3 linked regions of the Homo sapiens genome follow. The protein of the gene in region 1 interacts with the protein of each later gene in a biochemical or structural test. Each region holds a gene or a part of one and is shown in the gene's direction. Other genes may lie near its edges. The genes, in order: ARHGAP26, SRPK1 and RHOA.

What was found.
Region 2: of the proteins of ARHGAP26 (region 1) and SRPK1, one has a biochemical effect on the other in vitro, tested with the Homo sapiens proteins (one large-scale study listed by BioGRID and IntAct).
Region 3: of the proteins of ARHGAP26 (region 1) and RHOA, one has a biochemical effect on the other in vitro, tested with the Homo sapiens proteins (one study listed by BioGRID).

Annotation. Positions count from the first base shown.
Region 1 is NC_000005.10:142,776,774-142,780,424, forward strand, and holds part of ARHGAP26 (rho GTPase-activating protein 26), read left to right. Parts: intron 1-3,651. UniProt on the Homo sapiens protein: GTPase-activating protein for RHOA and CDC42. Facilitates mitochondrial quality control by promoting Parkin-mediated recruitment of autophagosomes to damaged mitochondria.
Region 2 is NC_000006.12:35,911,022-35,914,672, reverse strand, and holds part of SRPK1 (SRSF protein kinase 1), read left to right. Parts: intron 1-3,651. UniProt on the Homo sapiens protein: Serine/arginine-rich protein-specific kinase which specifically phosphorylates its substrates at serine residues located in regions rich in arginine/serine dipeptides, known as RS domains and is involved in the phosphorylation of SR splicing factors and the regulation of splicing.
Region 3 is NC_000003.12:49,359,862-49,363,512, reverse strand, and holds part of RHOA (transforming protein RhoA isoform 1 precursor), read left to right. Parts: intron 1-886; coding exon 887-1,017; intron 1,018-2,446; coding exon of another isoform or gene 2,447-2,585; intron 2,586-3,130; coding exon 3,131-3,304; 3' UTR 3,305-3,651. UniProt on the Homo sapiens protein: Small GTPase which cycles between an active GTP-bound and an inactive GDP-bound state.

The DNA of each region.
Region 1 (3,651 bases):
TGGGTTGTATGGTAAATTTATGTTTAAGTTTAATTTAAACTTGTGTTTATTTAAAAAAACCTACCATACTGTTTTCCATAACAGAAGCACCGTTTCACATTCCCACCAACAATGTATGAGGATTCTGATTTCTCCACATCCTCGCCAATACTTGTTGTTGTCTTTCTTTTTGATTGTAGCCACTCTAGTGGGTGTGAAGTGGTATCTCGTTGTGGTTTTAATTTGCATTATCCTGGTGACCAATGAGGATGAGCACCTTTTCATGTGTTTGTTGGCCATTGGTGCGTCATCTTTGCTGAAATGTCTATTCAGATCTTTTTTTTCCTTTACTTTGTCTCATAAAACTTTTGATGATTAAGTGAACAGCACTTAGTATATTTTCTCCATTTGCCCTCTTTTGGGGACTATTTGTTTCCATGTGCTTCAACCTTAGATGTATTTAACTGATCAGTTTCAGGATCTCAGGAATTAGGAAGTGGTTCTTATGAGGCTGTGGTTCAGATTTCTGCTCTTGTTAGGCCAGTGGGCATCGCTCTGGGCAGATGCCACACAGGCTGGACTTCCTAATTCTGGCCTGCATAAGCTAATGATCCAAGCCCTCTCAATGGACAAAATGAGAACCGGCCAAGGAAGAACTGTTATCACCATTGAGCTACTGGGGAAAGCAAGTTGTAAAGGGGACTTTGTTATCCTGTCAAGGTCATTGCATTTCTAAAAATTAGCCAGTGGAGGAATACTAACCTAGCAGTCAAAGTAGTTTTTCTAGATTTAAGTTTCTGAGTGAGCCTCGTTTTACCTTTTAAAATTATAACCCCTTCTGTTTCAAATTATATATTTTTTGCCATCAGAAGAAGAGTTTCGTTCAGGAAATACGGAGACCCTGCTCTGCCTTTACCATGTCCTCCAGAGCCCTAGACTAGAGTAATGGCTTTTTGGATGGAGGTAACCAATGTAGGAGTCATTAGCGGGGAGATTGAGTGGGATGTTTGGGGGCCAGTGGCGCGGCCAGTTGTGACTGTAGCAGAGTGAAGGCGAATGCACAAAGAGATAGGCCAGGGCAAGGTCATAGGGATCTTGAATTCTAGAAAGGACTTAGAGTTTTATTCTAAGTGTGATGGGCAGCCATGGAAGGCTGTGCCATGATCGTACTCATACTTTAAAAAGATTATGTAGGCAGCTGTGTAGAGACCAAGCGTAGTGGAGCAACAATGGAGGCAAGATGACCAGTAAGGAAGCTGTTGTAATAGTTGAGGTGAGAGATGATGGCACCGTGGGCTAGGGTGACAGCATCACAGATGGTGGTCAGAGGCTGGGTATTTTTGGAAGTAGAGCCCACAGGATTTGCTGCACAGCATATGGGCTATGAGAGAAAAGAAAGAAGTCTAGAATGATTCAGATATTTTTGGCCTGAGCAGTTATGTGAATGATGGTACTATTTGCTAAAATAGTTTGCTTGGGAAGGATTAGGTTTAGGGGTAAAATTAACAATATGAATGAATGACCTAATCTTATAATGCAAAGACAAAATATTATGACATGGATAGTTCCTGAATACATTCTCATGCAAGCATCAAAGAGTATAGACGTATACAGTGTAAAAGCACCCCCTTTTCCTAGCTAACAATCATTGTTAGCAGTTTGGTATGCATTTTTTCTTGTCCTTTTTCTGCGTGTTTTTTTCATAAATGGGATTATACTATAAGGATTATTTTGTGTTTTGCTTTTCGAGTTGATCATTTGTCTTGAAGACCTTCCATGTCAGTACATGCATGTAGTGCATTCTTTTTAATGACTGCAGAGAGCTTTATGTGGATATGCCATAGTTGGTATTTACTCAGTTTCCTGTTGAAGGATATTTGGATTGTCTCTGTTGTTCACTATTAGAAGGCGTGCTGCAGTGATTATTTGCACACCTGCTTTTGTGTGTGGATTCCAGCATTTCCCTGAGATGGATTCCTTCAAGTGGAATGGTTGCTGGCTCCAGTTTTTACAAGCCCTTTGACATCTGTTGTTTAGGTCCTTTGCATCCTTGTAGCCGGTTGATAATTTGGTGCTCCTTTGAGTATGTTAGATTGTTTCTGAAGCTTAATCTTTTGGTTAAATCAGAAGCATCCTTAACAGACCCTTCTGTTAGACACTGACACTGATTTTAAAACAACCAAGGGATAGAAAAAAAAAAAAAACTTAGTGTGTGTGTATGTGTGCCAGGGAAAGAGAGATGACAATTAATTGGATGTGTCCCTATTAGCCCTGGAACTGCTTGATATGCTTTCTGAGTGGCATGTTCTTATAGGTCAGATGGGAGATGGGATGGGGCTTTGCCCATATCTAAGAGTCTATTCTAACCTCCAGGCTCAGGGACTAGGAAGGAAATCATGTTTATTTAGGGTGAGAACAACAGCATTAGCAGCCAGAGGAATTTTTACAAATTATAGTGACTGGGGTTTACACATTTTTGTAGCACCTCAGAATGGAGAGAGAGGAAATGGTAAGGAAAACAGCTTGGCAGTGTGGGCCACGAGCTGTCATGGCATGTTTGTGTCTGGCTCATTTCACCTTGATTGGAAGGCACAGAATGCTGCCCTGGGTAAGCTGGAGACTGGGCAGTTTCCTGCTATATTTAGAAAGAGGAGATTCCTGGGGTTAGGGTGGTGTGTGTGTGTGTGTGTGTGTTTTCTTTGCCAGATAGACAAAGGTTTGAGGGGTTTGTGAATTCCACACCAAACTGTTAACTAGCTGGTTTCTCTGGGCCAAGCCAGTAGCTACTCTTTGACTCTTGCTGCTGCCACACAGCAAAAGCTCAAAAAACTCCTATTTTATATGGTTTGAAAAGATACCGCTGGTAAGTTTCAAAACTCATCTGATCTTGCTGTCACATCTGCTTTTAAGTTTACTGCAGGCTAATTTGAACACTTTGAAAATATGAACTGCCTCCTCCTCTGAGACTTCAGATAGATCTCCAAGCTGACTGAGTTGAACTTTGGCTGTTTCTGTGCCAAGGAGACTGTCAAACAGATAGGACCAAAGCCTTAGCAAATTCCTGACTGCGTATCTCGTTATCACACTTGTGGGTCAGGGGTAGACAATGAATATTAGTCGAACAAATAAAATAAGGCATTTTTACTTTAACTCATAGCTATGTTTCTTTTTAAAAGGGTTGCCTAAATAGGTAATACCTATAAGTTGTTCATAATTCAAAAGAGACAAAAGAGAATGTGAATATCCCTCCAATGCTTCCTGTCTCCTGATCCCCACTTCTTCCTCTGGAGGCATTTTATTGGTTTCTTTGGTATTTTTCAGATGTAATTTATGCATGTGCCAACAAATACACATACACATTGTGCCATATGTGCTGTTTTACCCTTTGCTTTTAATATATTAGATATTATTCTACATTGGTACATAGAGAGCTCACTCATTGTTAGATTGCATTGTATTCTATTGTATGAATTAAATATAGTGTATGTAACCATTCCCCTAATAATAAACATTTAGATTATTTCCAACCTTTCACCATTGCAAGTAATGTTGTTGTGAACATCCTGGCACCTCTGGCATGAGGCACATGAGTGACAAATTCCTAGAAATGAAACTGCTGGACCAAAGGGTATGTACATTTTTCATTTTAATAAGTATTTCATAACAGTGTTT
Region 2 (3,651 bases), on another chromosome or scaffold:
ATTATAGTGGGAGGAAAGACAGAATAAACAATAGACATAAATAAGTAAATTAAATAGTATATTAGGTGATAGGTGGAGAAAAAAGAGAAAGATAAGTGGGGGTTGAGAAATGGAGATAAGGTTACAGTTTTAAATAGGGTGATGGAGGCCACACTGAAAAGGTGACATTTGAACAAAGACTTGGAAGAGGACTGCTCTAGGCAAAGCAGTGGAAATGGGAGTGTTCTTGTATCTCCTGTGAAGCCACCAGAACTAGGTAATATTACTTGAAAAATCTTGCCAAATCTGGTAATCTATAAAATACCTTGTTGTAATTTTGAATTTTTTGCCCATTTTTAATATTAGATTGTTGATCTTTTTCTTGATCTTAAGAACTCTTTATTAAGAATGTATCCTAGCCAGGTCTGGTGACTCAAGCCTGTAATCCCAGCACTTTGGGAGGCTGAGGCGTGTGGATCACCCAAGGTCGGGAGTTCGAGACCAGCCTGATCAACATGGAGAAACCCCTTCTCTACTAAAAATACAAAAAATTAGCCGGGCGTCATGGTGCATGCCTGTAATCCCAGCTACTTGGGAGGCTGAGGCAGGAGAATTGCTTGAACCTGGGAGGTGGAGGTTGCAGTGAGCCGAGATCGTGCCATTGCACTCCAGCCTGGGCGACAAGAGCAAAACTCCATCTCAAAAAAAAAAAAAAAAAAAAAAAGAGAAAGTATCCTTTGTTGTGCGGCAGACTTTTATTTCTCAGCTTGTTATAGGTCCTTCAGATGTCACTTATAGTGTGCTTTTTACATAAATTGATTTTTAAAACCGTGGCAAATTTGTCTTTTCCTCTGCTTTTTCTTTTTTCTCTCTCTTTTATTTTTTTTTCTTTTTTTGAGATGGAATCTCGCTCTGTCACCCAGACTGGAGTACAGTGGCATGATCTTGGCTCACTGCAACTTCCGCCTCCTGGGTTCAAGCAATTCTCCTGCCTCAGGCTCCCGAGTAGCTGGGATTACAGGTGCGTGCCACCACACCTGGCTAATTTTTATATTTTTAGTAGAGACGGGGTTTCACCATGTTGTCCAGGCTGATCTCAAACTCCTGACTTCAGGTGATCACCTACCCTGGCCTCCCAAAGTGTTGGAATTACAGGCGTGAGCCACTGTGCCTGGCCTCCTTTGCTTTTTACTTTTTTTTGAGACGGGGTCTTGTTCTGTTGCCCAGGTGGGAGTGTAGTGGCGCGATCTCGGCTCACTGCAACCTCCACCTCCCGAGTTGGAGTGATTCAAGTGAATTCAAGTGATTCTCCTACCTCAAGGTCAACTGTTATATCTTTTTTAAAATTTGCATTTTTAATTGTGTGTGATTCCCTTAAATATAAATTTACTTGCAAAATTGAATTTCTAGAACTTCTCTTGTCAGAAAATATTTTGTTCTCTTCTTCCTCTGTAGTTTCATTGGTTAGTAAGTTTTATTTACATTAGTGTTTCTACTACAGTGCATCCCAGGCTTGACAAATTACCATTTTCCTTTAGATTACTTGAAACCAGCAACTTGTTGAAGTGCCAAAGTGAATAAGGCTGCGGGTGCTTAGGAATTCCCTTACTAAAAGTGAAAAAGGCTCGGTACAGTGGCTTATGCCTGTAATCCCAGCACTTTGGGAGGCCAAGGCCTTGAGCCCAGGAACTTGAGATTAGCCTGGGCAACATGGCAAGATCCTGTCTTCTAAAAACACAAAAGTTAGCTGGGTGTGGTGGCACGTGCCTGTAGTCCCAGCTACTCAGGAGACTGAGGTGAGAGGATCTCTTGAGCCCAGGAGGTAGAGGCTACAGTGAGCTGTGATTATGCCACTGCACTCCAGCCTAGGTGACAGAACAAGACCCCTGTCTCCAAAAGAAGGGAAGAAAGATGATCAACTAAAATCAATTTAGACCTTGTGGAATAACTGGCACTTTTTTGTGGGGTTTTTCCCACTTTAGGTAAGCTCTTTTGCTCATGCTCTCCAAATCCTCTCTATCACTGTTACTAGTTTGGGGATATTTTTAAATTGGCTAAAGTATTACAGGCATACTTTGGAGATACTATGGGTTCACGTTCAGTTCCAGACCACCTCAAAGCGAGTCACACAAAGTTTTTGTTTCCCAATGCATATAAAAGTTATGTTTGCACTGTACTGTAGTCTGTTAACTTTGCAGTAGCGTCATGTCTTTTAAAAATGTACAGACCTTAATTTAAAAATACGTTATTGCTAAAAAATGTTAAGGATCATCTGAGCCCTCAGTGAGTCATAATCTTTTTGCTGGTATAAGGTCTTGCCTCAATAATAATTTTTGTTTAAGGGAGATGGGGTCTGGTACTGTTGCCCAGGCTGGAGTGCAGTGGTGCTATCATAGCTCACTGCAGCATCGAACTCCTGGGTGCATGCGTTCCTCCTGCATCAGTCTCCCAAGTAGCTAGGATTACAGGCACATGCCACCATGCCCAGCTCATTTTTTATTTTTTATTTTTTTATTTTTTTTAAGGGATGGAATCTCATTATGTTGCCCTCAAGCTGGCCTTGAATTCTTGGCCTCAAGCAGTCCTCCTGCCTTAGCCTCCTGAGTAGTTGGGATTAGGGGTGTGAACCACTGCACCCAGCTATGGTCTTGCCTCAGTATTGATGGCTGCTGACTCATCTGGCGGCTGCTCAAGGTTGGAGTAGCTGTGGCAATTTCTTAAACAATGAAGTTTGCTGCATTTATTGACCCTCCCTTACCCAAAGATTTTTCTGTAGTATGCGATGATGTTTGATAGTATTTAACCCACAGAGGAACTTATTTCAAAATTGGAGTCAGTCCTTTCAAACTGTGCTACTGTTTTATAAATTAAGATTATGTTATATTCTAAGTCCCTTGTTGTCATTTCAACAATGTTCACAGCATCTTTACCAATAGTAGATTCCATCTCAAGAAACCGCTTTCTGCTGGGTGTGGTGGCATGCACCTGTGGTCCTAGCTACTTCGGAGGCCGAGATGGGAGGATTGCTTGGGCCCAGGAGTTCAAGGCCAGCCTGGGCAACATAGTGAGACCTTAGCTCTTAAAAACAAAAAAGAAAGAAACTTATTTTTTAAAAAAATTAATTAATAAACTAATCAGTTATTTTGAGACAGGGTCTCACCATGTTGCCCATGCTGGTCTTGAACTCCTGGGCTCAAGCCATCCTCCCACCTTGGCCTCCCAAAGTGCTGGGATTACAGGCGTGAGCCACCACGCCCGGCCAAGTAACCACTTTCTCATCATAAGAAGCAGCTCCTCATCTGTTCAAGTTTTATTATGAGATTGGAGCAATTTAGTCACATCTTCAGGATCCATGTCTAATTCTAGTCCTCTTGCTGTTTCTACCACATCTGTAGTTACTTCCTCCACAGAAGTCTTGAACATTTCAGTCATGCATGAGGGTTGGAATCAACTTCTTCCAAACTCCTGTTAATGTTGATATTTTTACCTCTCCCCATGACTGTTCTTAATGGCATATAGAATCGTGAATCCTTTCCAGAAGGTTTTCAATAGATTTTTCCCAGACCCATCAGAGGAATCACTATGGTAGCTATTGCCTTATCAAATGTATTTCTTAAATAATAAGACTTGAAAGTTGAAATGACTCCTTGATCCATGGGCTGCAGAATACAT
Region 3 (3,651 bases), on another chromosome or scaffold:
CTACTTGCCTTAGCCTCTCAAAAGTGCTGGAATTACAAGTATGAGTCACCACGCCCAGCCTCTTTTGGTTATTTTCAAAAGTCACTTTTTTTTATTTGAGACGGAGTCTTGCTCTGTCGCCCAGGAGTGCAGTGGCGCGATCTCAGCTCATGGCAAGCTCTGCCTCCCGGGTTCACACCATTCTCCTGCCTCAGCCTCCTGAATAGCTGGGACTACAGGTGCCCACCACTACACCCGGCTAATTTTTTTTGTATTTTTAGTAGAGACGGGGTTTCACTGTGTTAGCCAGGATGGTCTCGATCTCCTGACCTCATGATCCGCCCACCTTGGCCTCCCAAAGTGCTGGGATTACAGGCATGAGCCACCGCTCCCGGCCAAAAGTCACTCTTCAGCCATTTGAAATACCAGTAAACCCCATAGGGTAGAAGTTATGCTGAGAGTTGATGAACAAGTTAGAAAAAGAACATGTGGACCCTGGGTCAGCTGCTGCCCTAGAATGGGGACCCCTTCTGTAAGCTATGTCAGAATCATCTACCAGCAGTGACAGATGTCCTGTAAAGTGCCTGCCTTTGTGGGGCAGGAAGTGCCCCCCGTGAAACTACCTTGTGTTGTGGATCTTTTGCTCCTCCAGAGCCCTTACTCGGGCCCCACCTACAGAGATGCTCAGCACCACTCTTGGCTGGACTGAGAAAAAGCTGTTGGTTCTCTGTTTAAAGGAAAGGGATTATATTTCCTTTTTATGGTTTTGAAACTAGTGAGTTTCATTAAATGTCTAGCATTTTTCTGAAGCCACAAAGAAAGTGTCTCTGCAATTTCACTGAGGTTCTTGGAAAGTCTTCAAGATAGAATTGTATGTATCCCCAAATTCTCTACATTTTTCTTTCAGAAAACATCCCAGAAAAGTGGACCCCAGAAGTCAAGCATTTCTGTCCCAACGTGCCCATCATCCTGGTTGGGAATAAGAAGGATCTTCGGAATGATGAGCACACAAGGCGGGAGCTAGCCAAGATGAAGCAGGCATGATCTGGGGCAGGACTGTCTTGTAGTATTCTTGAACTAGGGCCCCAAGTTTGGAGGTTTGGGGAGCCCAGCAGGAACCTTCACAGGCCAGGTTGTTTTAGAGGCTCAGAAGCCCCTCTGTGGCCCTCTGACCCTCATTAATTGGGATCTTCACAGAAGATCCCTAAGATAGTTCACCAGTCCTGTGAGATGGAATGTTTTTTTATGAGGTAGTGCTATGCCCATAAGGACTGCTGGCCTGAGAATGAACCATTTCATTAGTAGCTAGTAATCAGTGGCTCTAGATGTAGGAACTTTCTTTTTTTTGATATGGAGTCTCATTCTGTCACCCAGGCTGGAGTGCAGTGGCGCAATCTCAGCTCACTGCAACCTCCGCCTCCGGGGTTCAAGCGATTCTTCTGCCTCAGACTCCCGAGTAGCTGGGACTACAGGCACCCTCCACCATGACCGGCTAATTTTTTTTTTTTTTAATAGATGGGGTTTCACCCTGTTGGCCAGGCTGGTCTTGAACTCCTTACCTCAAGTGATCTGCCCACTTTTGCCTCCCAAAGTGCAGGGATTACAGGTGTGAGCCACTGTGCCTGGCCTCTGTTAGACTCTTTATTTTTATTTTTTGAGACACAGTTTTGCTTTTGTCACCCAGGCTGGAATGCAGTGATGCTATCTCGGCTGCAACCTCAGCCTCCAAGGTTTAAGTGATTCTCCTGCCTCAGCCTCCCAAGTTGCTGGGATTACAGGCATGTGCCACCACGCCTGGCTAATTTTTGTATTTTTAGTAGAGACGGGTTTTCTCCATGTTGGTCAGGCTGGTCTCAAACTCCTGACCTTAGGTGATCTGCCCGCCTTGGCCTCCCAAAGTGCTGGGATTACAGGTGTGAGCCACCACGCCCGGGCCTGTTAGACTCTTGATTGCCTTCCCCAGCTATTACTTTGGTACATGTGAGGCCAAAGATAAATTAGTGGCAACTGAAAGATAAGGAAATCTTGAAGGCTGGGAGTCCAGATAGAAAGCCCTAATGCCTTCCCTCTCCTCCACTCCCAATGCCTTTTTAAAAGTGATGATGGATGTGGCATCTTGGCCTCTCAGAAACCAGCTGGCCTAATGGCAGGGCTTCCTCACTGGAGGAGAAGCATTGAGATCTTCAACCTAAGTTCTCTTACTCAGGTTTCTCTGTCTGAATGTCAAGGGTAGGCTTTATTTCCTTCAGGGCATTTAGTCCTGGATTGGTAGCTTGAGTAATTTTGCTCTTGATTGACTCCTTAACCTTCCAGGGCTCCTCTGACCTCTTCCCTCTACTTCCCAGTGAATACCATGTTTATTAGAGATTTTATGTTTGGTAGGGGGTAGTTACCATATGTCAGTTTAAAAATTTCATAAGTTTAGCAGTTTGTTGTTTTTTTTTTTTGTTTTGTTTTTTTTGAGAAGGAGCCTCACTGTGTCGCCAGGCTGGAGTGCTGTGGCACGATCTTGGCTCAACTGCAACCTCCGCCTCCCAGATTTAAGCGATTCCCCTGCCTCAGCCTCCTGAGTAGCTGGGGTTACAGGCGCCCACTACCACACCCAGGTGATTTTTTGTATTTTAGTAAAGAGGGGTTTCACCATGTTGGCCAGGATGGTCTTGATCTCCTAAACTCGTGATCCGCCCAGCTCAGCCTCCCAAAGTGCTGGGATTACAGGTGTGAGCCACCACACCCAGCCAAGTTTAACAGCTTTTGAAAGTCTTTTTTTTTTTTAGGCTGGGTACAGTGGCTCATGCCTGTATCCCAGCACTTTGGGAGGCCGAGGTGGGCAGATCACTTGGTCAGGAGTTCGAGACCAGCCTGGCCAAAATGGTGAAACCCCATCTCTACTAAAAAATTACTTGGGCGTGGTGGTGGGCACCTGTAGTCCCAGCTACTCGGGAGGCTGAGGCGGGAGAATCCCTTGAACCCAGGAGGTGGAGGTTGCAGTCAGCTGAGATCATGCCATTGCCCTCCAGCCTGGGCGACCGACGAGCAAAACTGTCTCAAAAAAAGAAAAAAAAATCTTTTAGATGAATTTGAATACTTTTTACTTACTATATGTATGCCACACTATTAGCTAAAAGGACTATTTTTTTTTCTTTGCTAGGAGCCGGTGAAACCTGAAGAAGGCAGAGATATGGCAAACAGGATTGGCGCTTTTGGGTACATGGAGTGTTCAGCAAAGACCAAAGATGGAGTGAGAGAGGTTTTTGAAATGGCTACGAGAGCTGCTCTGCAAGCTAGACGTGGGAAGAAAAAATCTGGGTGCCTTGTCTTGTGAAACCTTGCTGCAAGCACAGCCCTTATGCGGTTAATTTTGAAGTGCTGTTTATTAATCTTAGTGTATGATTACTGGCCTTTTTCATTTATCTATAATTTACCTAAGATTACAAATCAGAAGTCATCTTGCTACCAGTATTTAGAAGCCAACTATGATTATTAACGATGTCCAACCCGTCTGGCCCACCAGGGTCCTTTTGACACTGCTCTAACAGCCCTCCTCTGCACTCCCACCTGACACACCAGGCGCTAATTCAAGGAATTTCTTAACTTCTTGCTTCTTTCTAGAAAGAGAAACAGTTGGTAACTTTTGTGAATTAGGCTGTAACTACTTTATAACTAACATGT